Linked DNA regions of Homo sapiens: region 1 is linked to region 2. Evidence: fine-mapped expression QTL. A gene starts in region 2. The other region holds a variant in brackets. All regions are shown on one strand. Distances are from middle to middle. Region 1 overlaps ZHX1-C8orf76 (ZHX1-C8orf76 readthrough). Region 2 holds the start of ZHX1 (zinc fingers and homeoboxes 1).

Evidence for each region. PIP is the estimated chance that this variant, and not a neighbour inherited with it, causes the effect.
Region 1: its variant is fine-mapped to the expression of ZHX1 in whole blood (INTERVAL, PIP 0.94).

What each region holds. Positions count from the first base shown.
Region 1 is chr8:123,248,679-123,251,585 of GRCh38, reverse strand. All of the region lies in intron 2 of ZHX1-C8orf76 (ZHX1-C8orf76 readthrough), which reads left to right. It overlaps ZHX1 (zinc fingers and homeoboxes 1), which reads left to right. Exons shown (of 4, transcript NM_007222.5): 4 at 1,266-2,907. Among named protein-coding and RNA genes, the nearest start is that of C8orf76, 8.8 kb to the right of the region's middle. RefSeq lists an enhancer at 332-541. The variant C/AC (reference allele first, on the strand shown) is at 1,749.
Region 2 is chr8:123,272,882-123,275,788 of GRCh38, reverse strand. It overlaps ZHX1 (zinc fingers and homeoboxes 1), which reads left to right and starts at 1,503. Exons shown (of 4, transcript NM_007222.5): 1 at 1,503-1,572. It overlaps ZHX1-C8orf76 (ZHX1-C8orf76 readthrough), which reads left to right and starts at 1,503. Exons shown (of 6, transcript NM_001204180.2): 1 at 1,503-1,572. RefSeq lists an enhancer at 153-272 and silencers at 753-1,442, 1,643-1,842, 1,879-2,246.

The sequences.
Region 1 (2,907 bases), 24 kb after region 2:
TAACCTCTGCAATGATTTTTTTGGGGAGTTGCAGTCTTCCAAAAATAATGTGAATTTTTCTGTACAGTTTAGTTTGACCTTTAATTTTGTATAGATAATTCTTATGTTATATATTAACACTGTAATGGATACTAATTCTGGTCAGAAAATTCATCCTAAAACTACAGTTTTCAAAAGACTGTATGATGTATGCTATACATGCACTGTATTAGTCCATTTTCACACTGCTATAAAGAACGACCTGAGACTGGGTAATTTATGAAGAAAAGAGGTTTAGTTGACTCACAGTTTTGCCGGCTTAACAAGAAGCATGACTGGGAGGCCCCAAGAAACTTACAGTCATGGCAGAAGGCGAAGGGGAAGAAGGGGAAGCAAGCACATCTCACCATGACCGAACAGGAGAGAGAGCGAAAGGGGATGTTCCACACAACTTTCAAACAACCAGATCTCCTGAGAACTCACTCACTATCATGAGAACAGCCAGAGGGGAAGTCCACCCCCATGATTCAGTCACCTCCCACCAGGCTCCCTCCCCCGACACTCCCTGATTAAAAGTTATGTATGGGCTTATACAATTTCAAATGTAAAAACAGCCTATTTACATATGTTGAAACAATAAGATTTTGTGGTATCACTGTCCCTTAATAATTACAATTCAAGGTAAGATTTGGATGGGGACACAGAGCCAAACCATATTATATACTTTTGTGATAGCATAGAAGCATGCCTTTTTAAATACACAAAAGTCTAAATTTCTGAAACATCAAGTTATCCTTGGCTGAGTAAAATAATTTTTCACTTATAAGAGGATTCACCATAGCCTTCTCTAAATAGTTATTTCTTCATTTAAATATTGTTCAATTTACCAAAAAAGTTACCAAAACCTTCCCAAAATAGTTATTACAGGAAGTGAGGTACATATATATCTTTTGCACCTTGTATAGAAATAGAAAAAAGTACAAGTCTTTAGATTTCATAGTCTGCTTATTACAGATACTGACAATGAAATATATACTCCCTGCTCATACAGTTTGAAATAAATTATTACATAAAGATGATAAATGTTTATAAGCAAATCTAGCATATGAAGAACATATACATAGATGAGTTGCACACAAAGCCTAGTGTATTATGGAAGACATATGTGGCAGGTAATCTCAAGAGAATACAAAAGATGTATTTTCACTTTTATTTCTAAAAGTAGTAAAAATTAAAATATGGTTTTCTTTAAATTTTCAGTTTTTTATGATGTTTTTCTTTTTTAGCTGCCTAAAACGTTGAAGGAGAATCAATTCTTCAACTCAAGATGTCTGATTTACTGTGAATTTGCCCAATCTTTGATGACATTGAAAACGTTTTGGGGCATACACACTCAAAAAGCAGGATCCAATACCCAAAAGAAATGGAACTTAATGTTGTGCCAAAGTTAAACTACTGCAGTTGGTGGAAGTTCTGCAATGTAAATAGAACACTAATTAAAAAACAACTTGTAAAAATGCAATTTAAATTTTAATACAGTACATTTTTCTTCTAATATGATGGAGACATTCTGAATCTTAGACTTTCTGAGGGGGTTTAATGACCACTAGAGCTTGTCCTCATATTCAGTCCAGTTTAATACTGTATGTCTAGTAAGATGGGCTATATATTGCCTCTATTCTTTGAGATGTGATTAAGCTTAGAACTTTGACCAAAAATTTTACAGTAAAAATTGTTAGAAATGGGTAAAAAAAAAAAAAAAAAAAAAA[C/AC]CCTGATTTATTACTATGTCTTATTTATCAGACCCTGCACTAAGATTAAAAGTTGTGCATGGGCTTATACAATTTCAAATGTAAAAACAGCCTATTTATATATGTTGAAACAATAAGATTTTATGGTTTCACTGGCCCTTAATAATTGGATCCTTCATTAAACACATCCATGAATACCACTGTTTCTACTGTTACTTGTTCCATTAGAAGCTGATTTGCTTTTTATTAAACTGCAGGAAATTAATTCTGAAGAAGGAAAAGAAACTGACATGGTAATTTGGATAGGGTGAAGCTTTGAAATAAATACTGCACCAAAAATGTGAAAAAGAATCACGTAGTAAATGTATACTTAGTGTTTTCTTACAATCGTGGAAATCAGAAATGTTTATACAGGTGTCAGATCAGAATTTTTAAGAGTTATCTTTCAGTGAAATTTTATAACAGTTTCAGTGAATAGAGAAAAAATTCTGAACTGATCATAATGAGTTAAAAGTTAGCTTTTCACTTATGAATCATGGGAGTGTTAACTGTTAACTCTTGCCGTATCAGGAGACTGAAAGTTCATACTAATTTACAAACTTTGTAAAGACTGGTGCTGTTCATTCATATTGGGAAGAACCCTTTCTTTTGTGACCATAGGACCATTTTTCAAAATGCGCTTTCTTCGTAGAAGAAATGTTCAGTTTAATTAGCTTTGGATTTTAACATGTTTTTCTGAATGACCAGATGTAGGCTTAGCCAGTTTATTTTCTCTAATTTAATGGATAATAAATATTAAGCTCTTGGTTAAATGTTTTTCAGCCATTGAAAATGTTATGAAAAAGCCTTGAATATGCATGCTGCTTTCATTTTTATAAACTTTTTATTTTTTAACTATAGCTTTATTAGTAATTCCAAAATGCTGCAATGTAGCTGATTTCCTCACTCAGACAGCTGGCTTTGTGGGTGGCTTTTTTCATACTACTGTTAACTTTTTTAAAAAAGAAGCAATGTAAAGACCGTAATGCACTAAGCTTTTTTTTTTTCTTTTACACGTTTAAAAACTTCTTAAAGCACTCTGTAATATAATGATTAAATTGCTCCCTTTTATAAACATTGCTAATGTGGTCTGAGTTTTGTTTGACAATAATTTTAATGTTCTCAAAATTTGAAATGTCAA
Region 2 (2,907 bases):
CGAGGCTGGCGGATCACTTGAGTTCAGGGGTTCAAGACCAGCCTGGCCAACATGGCGAAACCCTGTCTCTACCAAAAATACAAAAATTACCCCGGCGTTAGGTGACGGGCCCCTGTAATCCCAACTACTCGGGAGGCTGAGGCAGGAGAATCGCTTGAACCCGGGAGGCAGAGGTTGCAGTGAGCAGAGATCGCGCCATTTCACTTCAGCCTAAGCGACAACGCGAGACTCCGTCTCAAAAAAAAAAAAAAAATCAGACTTCCACTTGAAGCAATTGCATCTTTTAGGATTAATGTGGCTCAGCGGAGCTCTGCTGTGCTTTTAGGATTACTGTGGCTCAGCGGAGCTCTGCACAAAGGGTCCGCGACTGGGATGGGGGTGGGGAGTGAACGTCAAGGGGCCCAGGAGCGCTCGAGCGTCCAAGGCCCGGCGTGTGGAGCAGCTGGAGGGTGAGTCGCCGCTCTCCGCTTTGGTTCTGTTCCTCCACGTTCTGACCGCGGTGCGGGGGAAAGGGAAAGTGAGTAGGGAGGGGCGGAGACGCCGGGCAGTGTTCCCGAAACCCCTGGCCCTCGCTGGCCCCGCTGCGGGGCTGGTTCCCTGAAAGCCGACGGGATGTGAAGCCCTCGACTCGGACAGAAGCCTCTGGAAGAGCGAGTGGCGGTTCGCAGGGAGGAGGGCGGCTGAGGGGCAGAGGGCGGCTCCGCCTTGCCCGGCGGTTCTGAGTGCAGCTGAACTGAACTTTCGGTGTCAGCGGGTGGAGCTGCGGCCCGCGGAGGAGCGGGGTCCGAAGCGAGGAGAGGTGGAGCTGCCGCTGACAAGGGGCGCGGCGACTTCTGTCAGGGCGCTGGGCTCCCGGCCGGACTCGCAGCAGCCCCCCGAGGGGCGGGGCCTGGGTCGTGTCGCCCCAGGGGATGGGCGTGTGATGACAAGGGGCGTTTCAGTAGAAGCCAGCATGCTTACCTCTCACGATCCAGCAGTGACATTAGGAAGGCGGAGCGCAAGGAAGGCGGGGCTGCCTTCTGTGCTGACCCGAGAGAAGACCAGGCTTCAGTCCACAGCGGGCGGAGCGGTCGCAGGCAAAGGGCGGGGCCATTTCGAGCCCTGGGAAGGCGGGGCGTCTCCTGACAGGGGGCGGAGCTTCCGCAGTCTGGGGCGGGGCTTCTGTTGACAGGGGGGCGGGGCGCCTCCCTACCTCCCGCGGTGCGCCAATCCCCGGACTAGGGGCCGGGGTCGGACCCCAGTGGAGTAGCAGGGTCTGGGCGTGGAGAGCTCGGCGCCGCACGGGGTGGGGGCGCGCGGAGGACGCGCGCGCGGGAGGGCCCCGCCTTGGCCGGCTCTCTCCCTTCCCCCTCCGCCCCCGGACGGCCGCTGGGGCGCGCGCCTCTCCTCGCACCCCCACCCTGAGTCCCCACACTCCGCGGGGCCACCGAGCTGCTGAGGCCCCTTTGCGGGCCCGCCGAGCGGTTCCGGGTTTAGGGTTCACAGGTCAGAGTTGACTCCCTGAAAAGTGCAGCCGGTTTGAAATGCAAGATGGCGGCGGCGTGGCGCTGAGAGGCGCGGCGGCCCCTGCAGGTAGTGGCGCGAGCCGGCTCCGCGACCAGCGGGCCCGGAGACTCTGGGCTGCGGGTGGGAACTGGAGCGCAGAGTCCGCGGCCGGCACGGGAAAGGCGAGTAGCGCGGGGCCTGGCGGGAGGAGGGCAGCCTCACAGCAGAGACCCCTGGGGCTGAGCCCGCTCGCGGCGGCGGGTGGCGGGGTGGACCCGGCGTGGGGCGTCCGAGGGGGAGGGACGGGGCCTGCCTCGCGGCTGGGTAGTCGCCGCAGAGGGACAGACAGACCCACAGCCTCCCTCGCTCTTTTTGGGTGTCTCCGCCACCGAAAGAGCTTGGGGGCGGGGGGCTCTCTGGAGGGAACATCTCAGCCCCCTGCCTTGGTGAGGACCCAGCAACTTAGGATTGTTGAGAGGAGTGAAGACTGCGTATTCCCAGCGGAGGGCGCCGCCGGAGGGAGCACCCCAGTAATGTTGGGAGTCCTAGAGGAGGTCAGGAGCGCTGTCCTCCGGGGGCGTGTGGCTGCCTCGTGGGGGACCCAGTCTCCCTGAGAGTAAGGAGAGATTCTCTTGCTGGAGCTGAGCGCACTGACTGAGGTTGGAGCCCCAGCAAACCCTTCAGGAGAAGTCTTTACCTCCAGTTCAAGGAAGGCTATGCGCACCCGTTTCGGGGCCAGGCCATGTCCCAACTTTGGGAAAGACTGGGAGTTGAGTCCTTAAGAACCATATTACGATTGTGACGAAGCCCTGGGATTTAGGGAGAAGTTAATTAAAGAGGATGGTAGGGGCGTGGGGGTGTGGGGGCTGACCCATGGGAATCCTCCAAGCCTTAGGGCCCACAGTGAACAATCTACTAATACCTCAAGGGGTATAAAAGGCTGGGAAGGAGAGGTGTGAGAGGAACAAGGTCTAAGGGCAGGAAAGAAGAGCCCTGGCAGATCCCCTTTCCTTATATATTTACACCAAAGTTGGAGGTAAAGGGACTTGGCAATTCTTTGTTTTAGTACCTTTCCTGTCCTCTCTCCTCCGTGGGTAACTGTAAGGAAAGAGCATAGCCCCTGAGAAGGAAAAGATTCCATTTGATATCCTTAGCTTAGGTTAGTGAAGGATCCAGCAGCTGGGAAGGCGTCAATGAGAGACAGCAGGCGGGGGAATTAGAACAGAGACTAGGGATGAGAAAAGAGGAATACAGGGAAGATATCGGACAGAGCAGGAATTCCACAGCCCTTTTCTGTCAACTCAGCCCAGCTATTAGAAAAAAAAAAAAATGCGAAGAGCTAATATTTGAGAGAAAAATGTAAAGGCTGAGAGAGAAGTCGTGATGTGATTAGGTTGGGATTCCATGTAACTTAAGCAGTTC